Linked DNA regions of Homo sapiens. The protein of the gene in region 4 interacts with the protein of the main gene of each other region in a biochemical or structural test. Each region holds a gene or a part of one and is shown on either strand. Other genes may lie near its edges. The genes, in order: WDR77, ESR2, TCEA1, CDK8, CTDP1, MBP and SMAD1.

Evidence for each region.
Region 1: the proteins of CDK8 (region 4) and WDR77 form a complex in vitro, tested with the Homo sapiens proteins (one study listed by BioGRID).
Region 2: the proteins of CDK8 (region 4) and ESR2 form a complex in vitro, tested with the Homo sapiens proteins (one study listed by BioGRID).
Region 3: the proteins of CDK8 (region 4) and TCEA1 form a complex in vitro, tested with the Homo sapiens proteins (one study listed by BioGRID).
Region 5: of the proteins of CDK8 (region 4) and CTDP1, one has a biochemical effect on the other in vitro, tested with the Homo sapiens proteins (one study listed by BioGRID).
Region 6: of the proteins of CDK8 (region 4) and MBP, one has a biochemical effect on the other in vitro, tested with the Homo sapiens proteins (one study listed by BioGRID).
Region 7: of the proteins of CDK8 (region 4) and SMAD1, one has a biochemical effect on the other in vitro, tested with the Homo sapiens proteins (one study listed by BioGRID).

What each region holds. Positions count from the first base shown.
Region 1 is NC_000001.11:111,439,390-111,442,823, reverse strand, and holds the end of WDR77 (methylosome protein WDR77), read left to right. Parts: intron 1-62; coding exon 63-171; intron 172-694; coding exon of another isoform or gene 695-730; coding exon 731-799; intron 800-1,434; coding exon 1,435-1,594; 3' UTR 1,595-2,934; downstream 2,935-3,434. UniProt on the Homo sapiens protein: Non-catalytic component of the methylosome complex, composed of PRMT5, WDR77 and CLNS1A, which modifies specific arginines to dimethylarginines in several spliceosomal Sm proteins and histones.
Region 2 is NC_000014.9:64,287,872-64,291,371, reverse strand, and holds part of ESR2 (estrogen receptor beta), read left to right. Parts: intron 1-3,500.
Region 3 is NC_000008.11:54,015,949-54,019,448, forward strand, and holds part of TCEA1 (transcription elongation factor A protein 1), read right to left. Parts: intron 1-3,500.
Region 4 is NC_000013.11:26,400,629-26,404,128, forward strand, and holds part of CDK8 (cyclin-dependent kinase 8), read left to right. Parts: intron 1-640; coding exon 641-719; intron 720-837; coding exon 838-996; intron 997-3,327; coding exon 3,328-3,453; 3' UTR 3,454-3,500.
Region 5 is NC_000018.10:79,714,303-79,717,802, forward strand, and holds part of CTDP1 (RNA polymerase II subunit A C-terminal domain phosphatase), read left to right. Parts: intron 1-188; coding exon 189-1,226; intron 1,227-3,232; coding exon 3,233-3,374; intron 3,375-3,500. UniProt on the Homo sapiens protein: Processively dephosphorylates 'Ser-2' and 'Ser-5' of the heptad repeats YSPTSPS in the C-terminal domain of the largest RNA polymerase II subunit. This promotes the activity of RNA polymerase II.
Region 6 is NC_000018.10:76,978,333-76,980,558, forward strand, and holds the end of MBP (Golli-MBP), read right to left. Parts: exon of another isoform or gene 2,140-2,226; coding exon 2,095-2,139; 3' UTR 501-2,094; downstream 1-500. UniProt on the Homo sapiens protein: The classic group of MBP isoforms (isoform 4-isoform 14) are with PLP the most abundant protein components of the myelin membrane in the CNS. They have a role in both its formation and stabilization.
Region 7 is NC_000004.12:145,484,853-145,488,352, forward strand, and holds part of SMAD1 (mothers against decapentaplegic homolog 1), read left to right. Parts: intron 1-3,500. UniProt on the Homo sapiens protein: Transcriptional modulator that plays a role in various cellular processes, including embryonic development, cell differentiation, and tissue homeostasis.

The DNA.
Region 1 (3,434 bases), on a different chromosome or scaffold from region 4:
CAAGTCTTTGGCACAAAAGTCCATGCTCTTAATCACTATGACATGTTCCTTCTCTTCTACAGGTGATGAGAATGGGACAGTCTCCCTTGTGGACACCAAGAGTACAAGCTGTGTCCTGAGCTCAGCTGTACACTCCCAGTGTGTCACTGGGCTGGTGTTCTCCCCACACAGGTACTGTTCTTTGTCATCAGGGGCCTGATGGGTATAAATGGGAACCGTGAGGGTGTGTGTGTATGTTTTCAAAGCATTAGCTGATGAAGTAGTTCCTTAAAGCAGACAGTGTTCTAGCTGAGGTTTCGGAACATCGAAGATCTCTTAAGTGTGAAGTAGAATCCTTTGGGAGTCAAAGGATTTTTCAGATTAGATGGTTTCTGTCTGAAATGGCTAAAATGTGATTTCATTCCTGCCCAACACCCAAAATGGTTAATGTTGTGGGCTTCTAGGACTGTGAGATTGGAAAAGCCTGTGTTTCTGGGTTATTGCTGAAGCTATAGAGAGGGACCAGATGGGGTGGTTAGTTGCCAGGATGGTTGTCAACCCTAACTTTGCTTCATTTCCCTCATCTTTACTTGAAACTTTTAGTGTGGACTTGTAGTAGCCAGATTAGCCAAAAGTGGGAATCAGGCTGCCTCTCCTGGGTCACTTTACAGTGGCGGCAGGGCCGGCCCAGTTAAGGTTTTGTCTTGGGATCCAGGCTGGACCTTTCACAACCCTCTCCTCCATCTGATAGTGTTCCCTTCCTGGCCTCTCTCAGTGAAGACTGCTCACTTGCTGTGCTGGACTCAAGCCTTTCTGAGTTGTAAGTGTGAAGTGGAATCCTTTGGGAATCAGGGAAGGGGAGCAGTGGGTGGGCGAGTCATTTTCCTCTTCAGAAAACTGTGTTGTGCTTTTGGAGAACAGATTCTCCATCTGTATCCGAAGGGACTTGGTAATGGAAGCAGGCTGGCTGTTGACCCTGTCCATTCCTGGGGCACATTCACAACCCCAAGGACAAGCCGTGTCCTTGGTAGAGGGGGGTGGTAGGTGAAATTTTTAAGTCTAGCCCTCCAGCGCTCTCCCACAAGGGGGCGGCAGTCTACCCTCTCACATAAAGAACTGCGTATGAAATGCAGCCTGCTACAGGGTAAAAGGCAGCACCTGGAAGACCTGAATTGTACTTCCCTCCTTGCCGTGATTTGCTGCCTGTTACTGCCCCTCATCACTGTCTTGTTCTATCCAGCATTTCTTCATCTATGAAAATAGAAGACTGGATTGGATGACTGATGACATCCACTGTGGATAGCTACACTGCTATCCTGGCGATGAGGCCATACAGTTGGTGAAATGTGTGTAACACACCCAAAAAATGTGCCCCAGATGTGTTGGGTTCTCTTTTTTTCTCCAGGTCTGCTTTTCTTGTCTCTACTCTGCCCCGACTTTTTTTCTTTCTTCTAGGTTTAGAAGCCAAGCCCACAGAGACTTTGTGAGAGATGCGACTTGGTCCCCGCTCAATCACTCCCTGCTTACCACAGTGGGCTGGGACCATCAGGTCGTCCACCACGTTGTGCCCACAGAACCTCTCCCAGCCCCTGGACCTGCAAGTGTTACTGAGTAGATTGGATTTAAGACAAAAAGCAAGTCCCCCATGAGTGTCCACTTCTTTGCCCTGCCCTCTCAGCTTGTGAGACAACACAGGAGCCTTCTATAGTATGTTGATATGCTAGATCTGTGCCGTTAATAGGCATCGTCTCTCAGCCTGAGGGAGGCTGGATTCTGGGTTCCTGTAGTCACAGGGAGGAAAAGCTTTCTTAAAAATGGACATGTATGTGCGTGTGAGTGTGTGTGTAGATTTATAGTTTTTGGTAGTGGCAGGAATAAAAAAAATCCATCCTACATCTTCCCTAAGCACTGCCTCTCTCTCACCCCCCAAAACAAGTTGACGAAAGGGTTTTATGTAGCTGTCTATGAGGAATTGGCCGTGTCTGGGTGGGTTATGGGATGTGGGCATCCCTGGGTTCTTGGAAGCAGCTCTTATGCTACTCATAGAGATGGGATTGACTTTATTTTTTTATAGTGCTTAATTCACCATTATGAGAAATGCTTCCAGTCACAAAAATGCAGCCCAGCTCACTCTGAGGAAGAAGCAGGACTTGGTACGGTTTTACACAACTCCTTACCATTAAACTGAATCAGAAATCCATTTTCTGGCTGAATAAAAAGTTTGGCTTGCCTGTGTAATGCCCACTCCCTTCCCCCTGGCTCCCTAGTGATGGGACATATATGAGAGAGAAGTGTTTTTCTATCATAGACACCATAGGGGAAAGTTTGGGGATGAAGGAGAGCTTAAAGGTGTTTCAATTAAGTTAGAAAACTGACACAGGCTGTTGAGAATTCTTTGCCACTTTTCCCACCCCAAAACAGCATGGGGCCTGACATCTTCTGCCCTGGTCCCCTTTCTCTTGATGTGGAAAGTCTGAATGCAGTATTTATAGACTTCTAAGGTTTTAAAATCCAGTATCAAGAAGAAAATCAGAAATACTGGTTGGTGAAATAAAGAGTTTAGGCATTGTTGGCCTGTCTTTTTTGAAGCATGTGTGTTATGTGTAGTTAGATATATTTCACTTATGTGAGTCATCATGGTGTTGGTCTTGTAGCCCATTATTTTTCCTGTGCTTCCCCAGCTTCCCAAAGTAGCTAGTTAGAACTTAAGGTAAATATTTATTCTTGGGTTGGTGGAGTGGATATTGCCAGTTAGGAGTCATGGATCAATTACTGATTATATTGAAAGTAAATATAATCAATTATGTACTTTTGAGCTTTGCAGGTTCAATTTAGGTAAAAATCACATTATGAAACTGGGAAAGTCTGAAGGAATATGGGCAAAATATTTCTCAGTAAAGCTTCCATGCTTCACCCTTGACATGATTACCCTTGAGTAAAACATGGGAATTTGTAGTTGTGTGATCCTCTGGCGTTGATGTGGAGTAGGAATAAAGTCTTGCATCATTTTTATAATGTGGGAGGAAATAGAATGGGTAGGTACAATCACTTAAGTTCTGCCTCTCGAAGATAAAACTTTAATTTTGTGGACACTTAGAGAAAGTAAGGGGTGGGGGAGCTTGAGGTGAGTAGGAATTTGCATAGCCCTTTTCTTCCTGGACTTAAGAATGATGGAGAAAAAACTCAGTGAAAGAGATAAGGAAGCAAATGTGTGGAAATGTGTGATAAGGAAGGAAATGTGTCAAGGTGGTTACAATATGGAAGGGAAGCATAGGTTTTTTTTTTCTTTTGTTGAGATGGAGTTTCACTCTTGCTGCCCAGGCTAGTGTGCAGTGGCATGATCTTGGCTCACTGCAACCTTCGCCTCCTGGGTTCAAGCAATTCTCCTGTCTCAGCCTCTTGAGTAGCTGGGATTACAGGCTAATTTTTGTGTGTTTAGTAGAGACAGGGTTTCA
Region 2 (3,500 bases), on a different chromosome or scaffold from region 4:
GACAGGTCTTGAAAATGAAGGGCTTTTAGTGGAGAATCTTTGTGTGGGTGTACTTGAGAGAGGGCAGGAGAGTTAGGGTGACCTAGAAAGATAGATTGCTGGACTTGTATATGTTTCCTCAAAGCCAGACTGCAGCATTTTGTTAGTAAATTGTTGTGTGTTCTACTGTCAAACCCAGGCCTGGAAGGGGAGTTGAGTGCATTCAGCCTAACTTCTGGATTGGCTGTGTCATCTTGAATCCCTTCACTCGGAATTCTCTCTGACCCTGTCCCAAATGAATATTTGAATTTGGTCCAGTTCCTACAGAGCATGGTCTGTGGCTGTTGTTGGTGTTAGGGAAGAGCAGAAACTTGCTGTTGAGAGAGAAGACACTTGAGAAGACTGATGAACTCTCTCCCACCCCTGCCTTCGAGGCTTGGTCCTCCTACCCTATTCAAACCCTTGAAACTCTTTCCTATCCAACTAAATAAGCGCCAATTGGTTACTAGGAGAATTAGCTTTTCCTCATTTTAGAAGGAAACAGGGTTTCCTTATGTACATGTTCTTAAGAATTACATGCAAATCAGTTATTAATGATGAGTTCTCTGGTGATTTTGGAGTGTTTTATCTTCCTAATATTAAATTAATTGAGGGCCTTAATATTTTGTTTTGAAAGAATATATTTAAAAAGGCTGGGTGTGGTGGCTCACGCCTGTAATCTCAGCACTTTGGGAGGCCTAGGTGGCTGGATCACTTGAGGGCAGGAGTTCAAGACCAGCCTGGCCAAATAATGAAACCTTGTCTCTGTTAAGAATACAAAAAATTAGCTGGCCATGGTGGCTCAAGCCTGTAGTCCCAGCTACTCAGGAGGCTGAGGCATGAGAATTGCTTGAACCTGGGAGGCCGAGTTTACAGTGAGCCGCGATCATGCCACTGCATTCCAGCCTGGGCAACAAAGCAAAACTCTATCTCTAAATAAATAAATAAATAAATAAATAAGAATACATTTAAAGATAATAATTGGCCAGGTGTGGTGGTTCATGCCTGTGATCACAGCACTTTGGGAGGCCGAGGTGGGAGGATTGCTTGAGGCAAGGAGTTCAAGATCAATCTGGGCAACACAGTGAGACCCTATCTCTACAAAAATTTAAAAATCAGCTGGGCATGATGGTGCATGCCTTTAGTCCCAGCTACTTGGGGGGCTGAGTTTGGAGGATCCCTTGAGCCCAGGAGATCAAGGCTGCAGTAGGCCATGATCTTGCCACTACACTCTAGCCTGAGTTACAGAGCTAGAGTATAACCCCCACCCCCCAAAAAAGCTAATAATTGTCAAACAGCTACTTATGCACATCAAGGATGCTTGTTGCTTAAGAAATCTTTTTAAATCTTTTCCATGAAATTCCTTCTAGTTGCTGCTTTGTGAGCGTGAATTTTTTACTTCTGCAGGACACACAAATGTGGAGCATTTGAACTGAATGCTTGGGAAAGTGTGATGGGCAGGTGGAAGAAGAATAGGGATGAGGACTTATCCTCTATTCTTATCCTCCTAGACTTATCCTCCTAGTCTGCAAGCTTGAGAATATGGCATCAGGAATATGTGGCATTTTGTCCACACACACAGTGTTGGCAGGCTACCAGCAGCCCAGCTATCTGGACTAGGGGTGATGGATTTCTGTGGACAGAAGTCAAAAAGTAAAATTAGGAGGCAAAAATCTTCAGGGTGGCCATAAAGACATTGTAACTTGTCTGGAAATTCCAACCAACACTAAATGTGTATCCAGTGATATACCAATAGACTGGCTTCATCTTCTTGGATGTGTAATAATACCTTACAGAATGCTTTCTTTTTTTTTTTCTTTTTCTTTTTCTTTATTTTTTTTGAAATGAAGTTTTGCTCTTGTTGCCCAGGCTGGAGTGTAATGGCACAATCTCAGCTCACTGCAACCTCCACCTCCCAGGTTCAAGCGATTGTCCTGCCTCATCCTCCCGAGTAGCTGGGATTACAGGCATGTGCCACCATGCCCGGCTAATTTTGTATTTTTAGTAGAGACGGGGTTTCTCCATGTTGGTTAGGCTGGTCTCAAACTCCCGACCTCAGGTGATCTGCCCACCTTGGCCTCCCAAAGTGCTGGGGTTACAGGCGTGAGCCACTGCGCCCGGCCTCAGAATCCTTTCACAGACATCATCTCATTTCACCCTCAGAGCACCGTGAAAAGGTACAGCACCAAATAGGTACCTGATTCTACTGAAGAAGATGTGGCAGCTCAGGGAGTTTGTGGATTTGTCTAAGATTGCCTGGCTTTCAGGCAGAGCTGGGGCTAGAATGAATGTTCTGCTCTATCCATTGATAGAATATACATAAGAACAGGCTTGATGGTGGCTGACCTTTTTTTTTTTTTTTTTTTTGAGACAGAGTTTTGCTCTTGTCACCTAGGTTGGAGTGCAGTGGCGTGATCTCGGCTCACCGCAACCTCCACCTCCTGGGTTCAAGCGATTCTCCTGCCTCAGCCTTCTGAGTAGCTGGGTTTACAGGCAAGCGCTGCCACACCCGGCTAATTTTGTATTTTTAGTAGAGACTGGGTTTCTCCATGTTGGCCAGGCTGGTCCCGAACTCCTGATTTCAGGTGATCTGCCCACCTTGGCCTCTCAAAGTGCTGGGATTACAGGCATGAGCCACCCGCGCCCGGGTGACTGATTTCTTATTAACTAGATTTACAGGTGCTTTGATAAAAACCAGTCTAGTCTTGGCTGGCACGGTGGCTCATGCCTGTAATCCCAGCACTTTGGGAGCCCAAGGCGGGCGGGTCACGAGGTCAAGAGATCAAGACCATCCTGGCTAACATGGTGAAACCCCGTCTCTACTAAAAAATAGAAAAAATTAGCTGGGCATGGTGGCGGGCACCTGTAGTCCCAGCTACTTGAGAGGCTGAGGCAGGAGAATGGCTGAACCCGGGAGGTGGAGCTTGCAGTGAGCCAAGATTGCACCACTGCACTCCAGCCTGGGCAACAGAGCAAGACTCCATCTCAAAAAAAAAAAAAAAAAAGTGTAGTCTTTTTGGAGTGTTTTTCTGCCATTTCTAGGGCCAAACTTTTTCTTGTCCATGAATCATTGTCAAAATTGGGAATTTTAAATACTACTTTTTTCTTTTAATTCAAAAGCCATAGTATGTTTCCCAGCCAGTACATTAGAACACCATGCACGATCCCATGTGTACAAAAAGCTTTCTGGCTGAATTCAGATGTGACCTGAGAGGGCCAAATACAGGGGTGTGTGCTGGGAGAGAGAGAGAGGTCTCTGGACAGAAAACAAAGCCTGTTCACCACCCAGGATATGGACCAACTATTTTAGGTTATGGTGACTAAAGAAAATTGACATGCAAATAAATGAATAATTCTTAGAATCAGGATGTCTGGGTACTGGTTCTTTGGTTGGCCAGGTGAAATTCCATGCCAGGCCCAACAATTAAACTCTTTAGAGACAATTTTTTCCTGTTGTACCAGAACATTGTACTGAGGCCATG
Region 3 (3,500 bases), on a different chromosome or scaffold from region 4:
AGGGACATGCAAATCAAACCCACAATGAAATACCACTTTACACCCACTAGGAAGGCTATAATCAAGACAAATGATATTGGTGAAAATGAGGTGAAACTGGAATCCTCACACACTGCTAGTTGGAATGTAAAATGGTGCAGCCACACTGGAAAGGTCTGGCAGTTCCTCAAAAGGTTAAACATAGTTACTATATGACCCAGTAATTATTCTCCGAGGTATACACCCAACAGAAATGAAAACATATGTCGCCAGGCGCGGTGGCTCACGCCTGTAATCCCGGCACTTTAGGAGGCCGAGGCGGGCAGATCATGAAGTCAGGAGATCGAGACCATCCTGGCTAATACAGTGAAACCCAGTCTCTACTAAAAATACAATAGCCGGGCATGGTGCTGGGTGCCTGTAGCCCCAGCTACTCGGGAGGCTGAGGCAGGAGAATGGTGGGAACCCGGGAGGCGGAGCTTACAGTGAGCCATCACACCACTGCACTCCAGCCGGGGTGACAGAGCGAGACACTTGTACAGCAATGTTTTTAACAGTATTATTCACAACAGCCAAAAAGCTGAAACAGCCCAAATGTCCACCAAATGATGAATGAATAAGCAAATCGTGGTTGGGTGCAGTGGCTCACATCTGTAATCCCAGCACTTTGGGAGGCTGAAGCGGGTAGATCACCTGAGATCAGGAGTTCTAGACCAGCTTGGCCGACATGGTGAAACCCTGTCTCTACTAAAAATACAAAAATCAGGCCAGGCGGTGTGGCTCACGCGTGGAAATCCCAGCACTTTGGGAGGCCAAGACAGGCGGATTATGAGGTCAGGAGTTTGAGACCGGCCTGGCCAATATGGTGAAACCCCATCTCTACTAAAAATACAAAAATTAGCCGGGTGTGGTGGTGCGCGCCTATAGTCCCAGCTACTCGGGAGGCTGAGACAGGAGAACTGCTTGAACCTGGGAGGCGGAGGTTGCAGTGAGCCGAGATCGCGCCACTGCACTCCAGCCTGAGCGACAGAGCAAGATGAGACTCCGTCTCAAAAAAAAAAAAAAAAAAAAAAGACTATACTAAGCAAAAGAGGCCAGTTACAAAAGACCACATACTGTATAATTTCACTGACAGAAAATTTCCAGATTTGGCAAACACACAGACAGAAAGTATATTAGTGGCTGTCAGAGGCGTGTGAGAAATTGGTGGGGGCAAATGAGGGCTGAATGAGGAGTGACTGCTTAATAGGTACAGGGTTTCTTTTTGGAGTGATGAAAATGTTCTAAAATTATACAGTAGTAATAGTTGCACAAACCCGTAAATACACTAAAAGCCACTGAATTAACAGTTGACCCTCAAATAACATGGGTTTAAACTGCACAGATTCACCTGAGAATTTTCTTTCACCTCTGCAACCCTAGATGACAAAACCAACTCTTCCTTTCTCCTCAGCTTATTCAATGTGAAGACAAAGAGGATGAAGACCTTTACGACGACACATTTCCACTTCATGAACAGTAAACATATTTTCTCTCCTTTATTTCTTTTCTTTTCTTTTTTGAGACATTGTCTCGCTCTGTCACCCAGGCTAAGTGCCTATAATCCCAACATTTTGGGAGGCCAAGGCAGGCAGATCACTTGAGTTCAGGAGTTCTAGATCAGCCTGGGCAATATGGTGAAACCCCATCTCTATAAAAAATACCCAAAAAAGGCTGGGCTCAGTGGCTCACGCCTGTAATCCCAGCAATTTGGGAGGCCGAGGCAGGTGAATCACTTGAGGTCAGGATGTGGAGACCAGCCTGAGAAAAATGGTAAAATCCCATCTCTACTAAAAATACAAAATTAGTTGGGTGTGGTGGCACGCACTTGTAGTCCCAGCTACTCGGGAAGCTGAGGTGGGAGAGCTGCTTAAACCCAGGAGGCGGAGGTTGCAGTGAGCCAAGATCATGCCACCACACTCCAGCCTGAGTGACATGACTGCATGAGTTATACTACTACAAAAGTTATACTACTTGACTGCATGCGGGTAGGGAGGGGGGATAGTGTGAGCACCACAACCCTTGCATTGTTCAAGAGTCAACTACACTTTAAGAATGAATTTAATTCTATTTCTCGATAAAGCTGTTATTAAAAATTGTATAGTCATTCTAAATTTTGAATTATGCTAATTAATCTAACTCTGATATAGATATCAAAGTTTTGTTGCAGTTGTTATTTTAACTGAGGTACTTGGAAATGTAAATCAATATTTCAGGTATCCCAGCTCCTACGAAATTCTAACATCTAATTTCAATTTCTCTCCCTGCAATTTAATTCCACTCAACCTTGAGCCTTCAATGAAATAAATAAATAAACCTCAGCACTACCCACAAAATCTCTCCATGAACTTCAAAACTTTATGTCCTTGCCTCACTCCTCCTTCTATAATCTAAATGAATCCTTTACAAAGAAAGGCAACCTCAGATTGTTTTTTAGGCCTTATTACATCCTTTAGGCCCACAATCCTACACTAGAAGCATTTTATATTCACTTAATCCTTACTAAATTATCTCCAGTTTACCATGACGAGAAACATTTTAGTGATGACAAAGAACTTGCCTAAAATCACACAGCTAAAGTTCAGAAAAGTTCAGAAAAGCCAGGATTTGAACCCACATTAGCAGTCAGACTTGGTTACTGACACCGAATCAAAGTGACAAGAAAACAGCTTAAGCAGAAAACAGCTAATACCTAAAAATTTCGAACTACTTTCTGTGGTTCACTGTGGCTTGGTCATGTGCACTTGAGATCAAGTACACATGTGGGACAACATCTTGGGTAGAACTAGGGTCAGGATATTGATCTAGGTAACTAGGGAAACACACCTGCCCCAAAACAGCAAGTTCATACTCTTACTTCCTGATTTTGTATTCACTTAATTGTATCCATGCATGGTTCAAGAGCAGATGCAAGGGTCTTCTAGAGAGACACTGTAGCTTAAGAGAGGAGTACTAGCTTTGGAGCAAAACAGATTTAGATTCACATCTTCACTTGGCCATTCACTAGCTATTTGGCTTAAGACTATTCTAAATACTTAGCATCCTCATTTTCAGAATGAGGATAATACTCATCTTGCAAAGTTGCCTGAGGAATAAATGGGATAAGGTGGGTAAGTATTTAGCAGAATACCTGGCTCAGAGTAATAGCTCAATAAATGGTAAGCTGTTTTTAGTTAAGTGTGACACCTATGGTTTTAGTAAAACAAAATTATTCAGGTAAAGCAGCAGCATGTTAAAATATTTTTTTAAATGATATCTAAATTTGCACTTAAATTTGTCAATTCTGATGACAACTATTACTCTTCAAAGTTAACTTTTTCAGGCTGGGCGCAGTGGCTCACATCTGTAATCCCAGCACTCTGGGAGGCCAGGACGGGCAGATCACCTGAGATCAGGAGTTCAAGACCAGCCTGGCCAATACGTTGAAATCCCATCTCTACTAAAAATACGAAAATTAGCCAGGCATGGTGGTGCACACCTGT
Region 4 (3,500 bases):
TTGCTCCTCCTCTTATATGGGAACCCAAGGAAATCCTTTATGACAAGCAAAAATGAGCTTTGCTGATTAAAGTGTCATTTAGGGGCTTTCCAGTTAAGAGGCATTCCTGTTCATCTCTTGCTTTATGAAATGCTGATCACATTAGTTTCAGTAGTGATCCAGCTATTCAGTGACAGGTTGGTTATGCGTGCTGTAGCTCCTTACTGTCTGCAGTTACAGTTTCATGTTCCAAAATTGCAAATATTCCCAAATGTGTTCCCTATACCATCTTTTGTTTTGTTAATAAATGTAGTAGGAAGGGTAAAACAAAAATTACCTTTGAATGGTGACACATACTTCAGCTAGAATCTATATTTGGTCTGTATTAATAGAAGAGTAATGCTGGGATAAAAGAAGAAAGCTGAATCATACTCGATGATTATTGATCATTTGTATACAGCTCAAGCCCTCAAGTAGCCTGCTGTAATATTACTAGTTACAAAGAAAAGATTCGTTTTGTCACAGTTACATGAAAGGTGCTTATATTTGCAAATATGGAGACAAAGTTCATCTTAAAAGATTAAAATGAGAATCTCCTAAATGAAGCATTTGGAATATTGATTAGTATACCAGAAATGGTTTTTCTTTTTCTTATGATCAGCGTTTTTGCCGGTTGTCAAATCCCTTACCCAAAACGAGAATTTTTAACGGAAGAAGAACCTGATGACAAAGGAGACAAAGTAAGTATTAAAGTACTGTTAGCAGCTTCTTGTTTCGTGAATGCCTCCATAACATTTTCCATTGTGGGTATATTTTGTTCTCCCTCTGAGCTGAACTTTTTCTGTTTAACCAATTGAGAAGAACCAGCAGCAGCAGCAGGGCAATAACCACACTAATGGAACTGGCCACCCAGGGAATCAAGACAGCAGTCACACACAGGGACCCCCGTTGAAGAAAGTGAGAGTTGTTCCTCCTACCACTACCTCAGGTGGACTTATCATGACCTCAGACTATCAGGTATTCCAAGTTTATTTTGTATTGACTGCATGTCAGTGTTTACATATGGGTTTATGATCGTGGGAAAATGTGATTTAATTGAGAAATACTGACGTCTGTATACCCAGGGAAATACATTAACATGAAATGTTACTGGCATGGAAAAGTACTGACAGTGGTATGGTAGCAAGGGTTTAGACTTTTGAACCAGACTTGGAATGATCAAATACAAATTATGCCATTTATTAACTGTGTGACCTTGGACAAGTAGGATAATATCTCCTGGCGTTTTTTCATCTGTAAAATGAAACTAGTAAAACCTAACTTGCAGCTGTTGTCAGATTAGACATGAAGTGGCTTGACACCTAGCTTATGGTAGGAGCTTGATAGCTATTGTTTTGGAACAATGTTTCACAGTGATTAAGAACATAGGCTTTCAGATCCCAGTCTGGCCACTTACTTCTCTGTATCCTTGAGTAAGTGATTCAGATGTTCTCAGTTTCCATTTGTAGACTGGATAATGATCAATGTGAAGCTGTAGTAAGGATTAAATGAGATAACTCTGGGAGGTTAAGTGTTGCAGCCATTTCAGGAAACTGAGGCTTGTAGAGGTTAAATAACTTTCACATGGATCCCCAGCAAGCTGTAGATGCAGGACTCATATTTGATCTGACCACAAAGGCTGTTATGTTGCCTGCTTAGGGATCCTATCATGGCATTGTCAGTTACGTTGTGGAAAGACCCTCTTTGAAAATTGTATACCACCTCCTTTTCTCTTCTGCTTATTCTAACCATATTCCCAACTACACAAGGGTTCAGTGTGGGAAGGATACTGAAAATCTGACCAATTAGAATTATTTACACACAAAAAAAAAGAGAGAGAGAAAGAGATGTTATTAAACTGATAAGGTCCCGAGTGCTCGTTACTGTACTTTCAGAATTAGGTATTAACTCTTTCTTTTGGTTAGGGGAGAAGTCCAGCCCATCACACCATGGAAATCACTGTTGTGTGAGTAGTAATTCTCTTCCAGTTAGCTAAACAAGGACACCAAGGGCAGACAGCTGTGGGAGTTGTTGGTTCCAGTATCTTTTTCTTCCTTTCCGGATGGGAAGAGTGCATCTCTCTTGGCCCACAAATGTGTTTGCACACTAAGGTGATGGCATCCTTAGAAGGAAGCAGAGCAGTGCTCTGACCTTCGCTTCTGGAACCGAGAAAATGATGCCATGCTGCTTTGTTGGTGTGATTGTTGTTGGTTTTTTGTGGATGAATTTTAAAATAGTATTTGTGACTATCATTTCATGTGTCCACTCTTTTTAAAAATGTTACCTTTTCTAGGATTGGCAGAATTTGGAATTATATGTCTTATTAAATATGCTTTGAAAGACAGAAGTAATAAGTTCTGGTTAATCTTTTATAGTGTTTGTCTTGGGAGCAAATAGTATGAGAGAGAGGTGTGAGAATGGGAATAATAATCTAACATATCAAAATTAGAGAACCCCAAACCATCACATTCTTTCTCTTTGTGCCATTTTAGAATTGAGAATACCGTCCTTCTTACTGTGGTTATATTTTTACTTTTGTATATAAACTTGTAGCAGAAAATAAGATTCAGTAGCTTAAAGGGGCCAGGCACTGTGGCTCATGCCCGTAATCCCAGTGGTTTAGAAGGCTGAGGGGAAGGATCACTTGAGGCCTGGAGTTTGAAATCAACCTGGGCAACATAGCAAGACTCTGTTCCTTCAAAAAAAATTTTTAAAAATTAGCTGAGCATGGAGGTGCATGCCTATAATCCTAGCAATGATTATACCATTACACTCCAGCCTGGATGATAGAGTGACACCCTGTCTCAAAAGAAAAAAAAAATAGTTTAAAGGGCATAAAAATGTATTAATGCCAAAGAAATGGATTCTGTGATACCTTCTCCTATCATACTCACTTTTACTCTTCAGTCATGTGTGTGGGGGTGAGTTTTCTACTGAAGAAAGCATGTAAATAAGCTTTGAATTTTTTATGTATACATCATTAAGTTTCTGGGTAAACATCTCAAGCAAATTTACCAAGTAGATACAAAACAGCATAAAAAGGGGTTACTCCTGTAGAAAAAAATGTATTTGCACAGCATAGTAATAAGCCTAGGCTTAATATTATTTACTAGCAATATTTCTGACCTTCCTCAAGAGAAGAGGATGTTAAAATATTTGGGGTTTTTGTCTTTAATTATAAAGTTAGTACATAGCACAAAACCTATACATCCTTTCTTCCTTGAAACATAATGACACTTCAGTCACATATTGGGATTGAGCTTCCCCTAGAAGCACCTGAATCACACTTTTCCCTCATCTCCTTTCCAGCGTTCCAATCCACATGCTGCCTATCCCAACCCTGGACCAAGCACATCACAGCCGCAGAGCAGCATGGGATACTCAGCTACCTCCCAGCAGCCTCCACAGTACTCACATCAGACACATCGGTACTGAGCTGCATCGGAATCTTGTCCATGCACTGTTGCGAATGCTGCAGGGCT
Region 5 (3,500 bases), on a different chromosome or scaffold from region 4:
CCCTGGTCCCACGCACTTCAGGTAAGGGGTGCTCACCCTGTCCGGCCTCTTCACAGCAAGGTTGCCAAGGCCTGGTCTAGAGGGTGGTGGACTTCACAGCCATGGAGAAGGGTGCTGCTTTAACTTGGAACGTTATTTAATGTTTAATGCTAAATTGCGGTAACTTTTCCTTTTGCATGCATATTTAGTAAATCATTCTCGAGGCACTGAGGTCTCAGAGCCATCTCCGCCCGTGAGAGACCCTGAGGGGGTAACGCAGGCCCCTGGAGTGGAGCCCAGCAATGGCCTGGAGAAGCCTGCACGGGAGCTGAACGGCAGCGAGGCCGCCACCCCGCGGGACTCACCCCGCCCCGGGAAGCCAGACGAGAGGGACATCTGGCCCCCTGCCCAGGCCCCCACCAGCAGCCAAGAGCTGGCAGGCGCTCCTGAGCCCCAGGGATCCTGTGCGCAGGGTGGCCGGGTGGCACCGGGACAGCGGCCTGCCCAGGGTGCCACGGGCACTGACCTGGACTTTGACTTATCCAGCGACAGCGAGAGCAGCAGTGAGTCCGAGGGCACGAAGTCCTCCTCCTCCGCCTCTGATGGCGAAAGCGAGGGGAAAAGAGGCCGGCAGAAGCCGAAGGCTGCCCCAGAGGGAGCCGGGGCGCTGGCACAGGGCAGTTCCCTGGAGCCGGGGCGGCCTGCAGCACCGAGTCTCCCCGGAGAGGCCGAGCCTGGCGCGCATGCCCCGGACAAGGAGCCTGAGCTGGGTGGGCAGGAGGAGGGCGAGCGGGATGGCCTCTGCGGCCTGGGCAACGGCTGTGCCGACAGGAAGGAGGCGGAGACCGAGTCACAGAACAGCGAGCTGTCGGGGGTCACTGCGGGTGAGTCCCTGGACCAGAGCATGGAGGAGGAGGAGGAGGAGGACACGGATGAGGATGACCACCTCATCTACCTGGAGGAGATCCTGGTCCGTGTACACACTGACTACTATGCCAAGTATGACCGCTACCTCAACAAGGAGATCGAGGAGGCGCCGGACATCCGCAAGATCGTGCCGGAGCTCAAGAGCAAGGTGCTGGCAGACGTGGCCATAATTTTCAGTGGGCTACACCCGACAAACTTCCCGATAGAGAAGACGCGGGAGCATTACCACGCCACGGCGCTGGGAGCGAAGATCCTCACTCGGCTGGTGCTGAGCCCCGACGCCCCTGACAGGGCCACGCACCTGATCGCCGCGCGAGCTGGTGAGTGCTGCCTCCCTGTGCCCTGGGCATGGTCAGGCCCGCGGGCTCCTTGCAGGCACTCCTTAGAGTTGGCATTGCTGTTTATCTCACTTTCAATTTTCAGAAACATTTCCCAGAATCACCATCTTTTAAGAATAGATCATGACAGTGGGTGAAATTGGAGTTTGGGCACGTTCATGCTTTCAGACCGCAGTCATCGCACACACCATTCAGGGGTGGGAGTTACTCGTGTGTAGAAAGTTCAACCTTCTCCCTGGAGTAAGCCATGGCCGGGTTGGAAAACAGGGAATCAGCGATAGGGACGTAGTGGAGAAATTCGAGGCAGGAACAGGAGTTCGCAGGTAAAAGATTGACAAACCCTCTGAGTTAGAAAACTAAATGCAAGGTTTCAGCTGAAACGTGCACAGAAGGACACGTTGTGGCTGGGAGGGCGGAGGACAGGCCTGCTGTCTCCCGACGGTGAAACCTGTCCCGGACGGGGCAGGCTGCTCTGACATGTTGAAACTTCCGCCGAATAAAACAACCTTTCAGCAATAGGTGATTCTTGAAGGAAGACTTAACACCCCGGTGCTTAAAAAACCCAAATACCTCGTTATTCTAGTTATTCTGTGAAAATGCTCCCATAAGCACCTGGATTTTCCGCGAATGAAGATTGCGGTTTTTCTCCTCCAATCTGCTTCCTGTCCTGGCGGCGTTTCCTGAGAGGGCTTCTCAGTGCGTGGCCCCGCCTCCGGGGCTCAGGAAAGCCTTGTGGGGTGAGCTCATCCCTGTCCACGCACGCTCCCTGACAGCAGGTGTGGTCTTATTTGAGGCCACGGCTCTGGCACGTATCATGGGGCGTTGGACACGCATGTGCTCAGTAAAGCATTTGAATCAAGGGTAAATGGAAGGTTCCATCTCAGTGTGAAATAGCCAGGTGCTAGCTGCAGGGCAGAGGCGGGCTTTCCGTGGAGCCCAGCGAGACCCTTGATCCCAGGAGAAAGCCAAGCCCTGGCCTCCTGTGGGCAGTCAGACCCTTCTCTCCTGAGCGTGGAGCCGGGCCAGGCCGGGGTCCTCCTTGGCCCCTCAGGTGCCTGTCTGCCCTGCCGCGTGTCTGCCCAGCTCCTGACCCTTCTCTCCTGAGCATGGAGCTGGGCCAGGCCAGGGTCCTCCTTGGCCCCTCAGGTGCCCGCCTGCCCTGTCCTGTGAGTGCCCAAGCTCCTGGCCCTTCTCTCGCATTCCTTCCTTCCCCCTGAATTGTGCTCACGTTTCCTTTTTGCTTCTGTGTACGTGGCCTCACTGTTGAGAGGCTTTGCTGAACACATGCTAAGAGAGGTCCTCCTGCTGCTCAGGTCACCCGCTGTGCCCGGCTCCCCGTCTGAGATCCACCCCTTCCCACCATGGCTGCCTATCCCTGGCCTGGCAGATGGGAACCTGCAGTGGGCAGCCCTGGTGGGGTGCAGCCGGGTGAGGGCCCTGGTGGGGTGCAGCCGAGTGAGGGCCCTGAGCCCTAGTGGGGTACAGCTGGGTAAAGGCCCTGAGTCCTGGTGGGTACAGCCGGGTGAGGGCCCTGAGCCCTGGTGGGCTGCAGCCGAGTGAGGGCCCTGAGCCCTGGTGGGGTACAGCTGGGTGAAGGCCCTGAGTCCTGGTGGGTACTGCCAGGTGAGGGCCCTGGGCCCTGGTGGGGTGTAGCCGGGTGGGGGCCCTGGTGGGGTGCAGCCGAGTGAGGGCCCTGAGCCCTGGTGGGGTACAGCTGGGTGAAGGCCCTGAGTCCTGGAGAGGTGCAGCCGAGTGAGGGCCTTGGTGGGGTGCAGCCGGGTGAGGGCCCTGGTGGGGTACAGCTGGGTGAGGGCCCTGAGCCCTGCAGGGGTGCAGTCAGGTGAAGGCCCTGGTGGGATGCAGCCGAGTGAGGGCCCTGAGCCCTGGTGGGGTACAGCCAGGTGAGGGCCCTGGTGGGTGCAGCCGGATGTGGGCCCTGAGCCTCCAGTGCTGGCCGGAACAGCCTGACGCAGCCGGGTCTCCTGCAGGCACAGAGAAGGTGCTGCAGGCACAGGAGTGCGGACACCTGCACGTGGTCAACCCTGACTGGCTGTGGAGCTGCCTGGAGCGCTGGGACAAGGTGGAGGAGCAGCTCTTCCCGCTCAGGGACGATCACACCAAGGCACAGAGGTGGGTCCTCGCTGCACCCAGCAGGTCCGTGCCAGGCGTTCCCTTGCTGGACAGCTGTTGGTTCATGCACCTGGGCAGTGCCCCTCATCACCCGGACGCCCCGCTCATGGCCCTCGTTCTCTTCCT
Region 6 (2,226 bases), on a different chromosome or scaffold from region 4:
GCACTGCACTCCAACCTGGGTGGCAAAGTAAGATCCTGTCTCAAAAGAAAAAGAAAAAACAAAAGAGACTTTCGTCTATCTTTTTGAAGAAAAATTCTTGTAACCAAAGGTAACTATAAGTAAAACATTGCTTCACGCTCTTTCATGCTTTCAGAGAAAAAGGTGGCAAGGGGAACACGTCCAAGACTCCTGGGTTCACATCTGCAGGGTGTGTACACTAGCCACACAGCAGAACACAGACAGACTTGGAAGCTTGTCTTCAGAGACACTAAATATTTTTTTCCTGGTGAGAGAATCAGTGCCCTAACAACTACCTCTGTTCCACTTTCTTCAGTAGCCATCGACCCTCTGATGAGGATGCCCCCTCCAACAGGCACCGCCAGGCAGCCCTGCCTGGAGACCCAGAGGCACCGAGTCACATTTGCTCTGCACACCTGGCTCTCGCTTGATGTGGGCCTGTGTGCTACAGCCCGGAACACAAAAGAAGACACCCATGCAAATACCATTAAAAGTTTATTGTTTTATTTCAATATTCAGGAACAGTGTACACTTTCCGTTCAGCCATCGTCACAGCACGTGCTGTGTGGGTGCGGCCACGTATGGATCGCAGAGCCGACCTCAGCTCAGCGACGCAGAGTGCTTCTGCTGAAAAATTTGGAGGTTTGTGTCTGGAGTTTTGTTCTTTGTAACTCTCTCATCATCGAGGCTATATATTAATAGACATGGTATTAAGCCCACACGAAACATTCAGAATTAGAATTGGATTAAGAAGACGCGTTTTGGCATCACGCTGACTACTCCTCATCTCCGTCCTCGGGGAGGGTGATGCCAGCGTGGGACTCTTTGGAAGGCCTATCAATCACAGGTGCGCTAAAATCAAAAGGTGGGTCAGTAGGTTAGGGAGGGAGGCGCGAAAGGAGATGCCAGCGGGTGTTAAGAAGGATATGGTCAGAAGAGCTCTTTGTCTCCATCCACGGGGCCGTCTGCTCAGCCCGTGTGTCTCGGTGAGTAATTCGGGAGCAGGTGCACGCCTGTGCCTACTCGCTACCACGCGTCTTCTGGGAGGAAGTGAATGAGCCGGTTATCTTCTCAGGGAGGGTTAGTGCTGGCCACTGTGCACTGCCGCTGCCAGCACGCCCGGTCACAGCCAGTGTCTATGGGCGACTGGCGCGGCTGCGAGGCTGTCTAGAGGACTCCTACCCTTCTGCTCTGAGTGCGCAAGTCTTCCTGGACTCTCCGGCTGTGGGCTGTGGTTTGGAAACGAGGTTGTTCATAGAGGCTGCTCTGGGGCCACCATGCAGGGCAACGGTGACGTCCAGAGGCCACCTGCTTGACATCTCCATCACCAAATCTCCAGGAAGACCCTGTTTCCTATGTGAGGCCATTGCCCAGCCCACGTTTGCCTCCTTTTCCTCCCTCTGCCACACGCGAATTCAGCTAATTGGGGTGTGTGGGCAGCCACGGCCTGGGGAGGTGGCCCCCTCTCTGTGCTGCCCCACGTTGGACTCTAACAGCTGCCCAGCCCGCATGTCACATACCAAAAGCTCCCACATGTAGTAAGCCACTCCTTGACTGTCTAATCCTGTTAGGAAAAATGAAGTCTACTTTAGGAGGTGAGAGAAGGACAGGAAAAAAAAACAAAGGAAGCTTGGATGTCAACAGTCCTCTCTGCCGCCCACGTCCTCTCTGTCTCTGCAGCTGTGTGCCTCCATGGCAGTGACCAGCAAAAGCGCAAGGGTGCCGCAGCCACGGCGAAAAGAAAGTCCAAGGGTGGAGGGGTGAACGTGGAGGGACGTCTGTGCACCTGGCCCCCTGAAGACCCACGTGCGTCTGGGGGCACATTGCGGGGGAAGGAACGTGATCTTCACACAGAAAGGGACAGTTTTAACCGTTTTCTGTTTTCATGTTCTCATTTAACTGTTGGCCGGAAATTGCCGGTAGGCTGCCGTGGCCTGACCCTACTACGTGCACAACTCCGCAGGCATTAGGGGAGGGGTCATCTGCTCTAATTAGGTAACAGGGGCAAGTGGGATTAAAGTTTTAAGGCAGTTATATTAAGAAGCTGAGGACAGGATTCCGGAACCAGGTGGGTTTTCAGCGTCTAGCCATGGGTGATCCAGAGCGACTATCTCTTCCTCCCTGAAAAGGAAGAGAGAGGAGTTAGGACGAGAGTGCCGCAGGGTCCTCCCACACCAGCATCCCCTCTTCTGTGGTCCCGGGTGGATG
Region 7 (3,500 bases), on a different chromosome or scaffold from region 4:
TTTCACTGTATTGATATCTACTGACATGTTATTTCTTTAACTAGTCAAACTTACCAGGCCTATACCAGAAACAAAGATATTTGAATTGAACATATAAACAGTTCAGGAAAAGAAGATCCTTATTTTGCTTAAGTTTCTGACAATCCTTATTTAGCTTATGGATTATCTAGGGCTCTGCTATCCTAGCCATAGTCACACGTAGCTTTTTTTGAAATTTTATTATTCTATTTTTTTGAGACAGGGTCTCTCTGTGTTACCCAGGCTGGAGTGCAGTGGCACGATCATGGCTCACTGCAGCCTCGACCTCCCAGGCCCAGGCAGTCCTCCCACTTCAGCCTCCCAAGTTGCTGGGACTACAGGCACTGCCACCATGTCTGCCTGACTAATTTGTTTTTGTATTTCTTGTAGAGACAGGGTTTCGTCATGTTGCCCAGGCTGGTCTTGAACTCCTGGGCTCAAGCTGTTCTCCCGCCTCGGCCTCCCAAAGTGTTGGGGTTACAGGTGTGAGCCACTGCACTCGGCTACTTATAGCTATTTAAGTTTAAATTAAAATTAAATAAAAATTCGTTTTCTCAGCAGTAGCCGCATTTCAAGTGCTTAGTAGCTGCTTGTGGTTAGTGGCTGCCATACTGGACAGCGTGTATATAGAATAGTTCCATCATCACAGGAGGTTCTGCTAGCCATTGCTGCCCCAGGACCTTTACCTCTTCTCACTTGTTAACTCTACTAATGATTTGTGGAGTCAAAGATGGAAAGACATATATAAACTAATTTTATCACTAACTAGCTGTTCTTTTTAAAATAAAACACAATTTGGAAGGGACAGTTGAAGCTGCTGGATAAAAGGAGTTTGACTTTTCTGTAGATCTTATTTATTATTAGTGTCATCGATTCTAATTTGGTTTAGAGCCTTAGAGAGAAGAAATAATTGTAGCTAACCCTTTTTTCTGAATTTTTACTGTATGTATGCCAGGCATTGTTTATAATACCCATATCTCATTTAAGCCTCAAAACTTCCATAAGTACTATTGTTGTCACATTTTACAGGTAAAGAAACTGAGGACAGAATGATTCAGTATCTTGCTTCAGGAGGTACAGTGAATGATTATGATTTCTAATCTTACCTGGGATATGATCGAGGCAGTCCAACTCTAGAAACTCCATCTTAACTATGTTTTTTGGTCTTTCGTTCAGAAGACCCAAATCATCATTGTTCTGCTGTGCTTTACTATGCCAGTATAGACATGACTTGGCTTGTGTATTTTGTAGGTCTTTAAATAAATTTACCTTCTATTGTGCCTTTCTGGGCTATCTTCTGTCGTTCTTTTGTAAGTGTTTAAGAAAGGAAAAATAATGCTCATCTAAGCAGCACATAATTTGAAGAATAAATCTGGCATGAAAATAATGCATTTCAAAGCCAAATTAGTTTTATCTCTGCTTTTCTGCATAATTCTTGTCACTTTCCTCTTGCATTTTCTTACATAATCACAAACTGATATTAAGTTAGGAGGAAAGTTGTAGTAATTCAGTTTGTCTGTCTTACCAAAATTAGTCTATCTTCCCTGAGCTGTTAAACACTGTAAGAATAGTAATTGCAAATTCATTGGGGATTTTTAAAAAAACATTCAACATCTATTTTTGTAAATGTTTTACAAGGTCAGGGCTGTTTAAGAATCGATGAAACTATGGATCTTGTATCTTCTTATTCCCACCTTCCTATCCCAAAATGCTTATATGTCATGGTGAGTTAATGTGTACACTTAACTATCCAAATCTCATGGTCTTTCGGGTGAAATATGTCCATGGGACTGCCAAGTGCTTTCATAAACATTAAGATTTGTAATTTCCTTTACAGAGAATAGAGATACTTAGTATTAAAAGTTGCTTTAAAGATTTTCTAATCTGGTTGGTTCATATCAAGGTGAACAGTCTGAAGTCCAGAGAAGGTAACTGACATCCAAAGTTACCTGTCTAGTGATTGGAAAAGGGAAAGCCAAGATCTGGACTCCTCTTGGCATTAAGTGCCCTTTTGTTTTCAGGTTTTTTTTCTCCCTACCACGCTCACGATATTTCTGAGGCTTTGGTGTAAGCATATCCAGTGTAATTTAGGGAAGGGAGGAAAGAATTTTTTGGCCTGTTAGCAACTTTTTATACCTAACATTGTTTGAGCTAAGTAGGAATCAAATCTGACAACCAGAGAGAAATGCTTATTTTCTACATATTAAAATTGATTCTTTTTCATTCTGGAGATGGAAAAGAAAAGCCCTATATCTAATTTAATCAATGAGACCTTATTAGAAAATGGGAGATCCAAGATTGCACAAAGTTCAAATTAAAGCAGGCAACTCTGACATCTAGCAAAATATACGAATCTCCTCTTGACTCTCGAAAACAAATCACATTCCTAACCAAAAGCTAAAGTTTGGGGTATTTAGGGAGCTAGGGAGTCCTAGGGAGAGAATTGGACAGGTCTGAGGAGAAAAAGGATAATTTAAATATAAAAAAGTGGAAAAAATCGGTTTTAAGTCATAGCATGTCTTTGAGGTTGATGAAATGTTCTGCTACTTCTATATGTGGTTTTACTCTTTGGTACCAAGATTTTAGGACATACTTTGATAACAAATAGGGGCATGTCCTCTTTGCCCCAATCTGAAACCTCTTGACCCTTTATTTTCCTTTCCTGCTGTTATCTGGTAGTACAAATATTCAGTCTAATCTGTTGATCTGGCATCTGATTTGCAGCAAAAATACCTGAAGTATTTTCATCACTCTGCTGTAGCCACCTTTAAAAAGAAAAGGAAAGAGAAGAAAAAGGCAGAGCCAAATAGTATTAATGTAATTGCTTAAAATCTAAATTAAAATACTCATCTTGCTCTGCGTTATTAAGATGGTGTCAGTTTTAGAGGTGCAGGGCTAGTCCTATATGCAAAACAGTAATGTCTGTAGCTATTGCGGGCTGACTTGCAGAAATGAGCGGCTTCTCTAGAACATTCATTTGCATAAAGGAAACTATCTTTCAGAAAAGAAAAGCCAAAAGTTTCATAAGCAGTTTCACTCCAGTGACTACATCAGAGTTTTAGTAAGGTACTGGGAACTACAGTATTTGAACAGTTCAGCATCTTTATAATTTTTGTTATAAGCTAAAATCTGAACTTTAGAGAAGACTCTCTCTTGAAAATAAAGCATTAAATTCTCTAAGGTGTGAGGAAGTCCTTACCTGGTGATTTTCCCAAATCTCTTTTATGTTCTTAGTGTTTGAAAAAGGAACTTTTTTTTTTTTAATAAGAACCTAGGTTTGCAGTATAGATTGGTTTCTTAACAAATATTTTTTTTGAGACAATAAGCCTGGATCTGAAGAAAGAACATACAATTGTTAATTATGCATGTATATGCTTTTGAGTTCAGGATGTAAATGAATATTCACTAGGTCCTGTTTGGGAAGAGGAGGAGAGAGGGGTCTCTCTGTTGATTCAGAATATATTTTTATACATAAGTTTTAA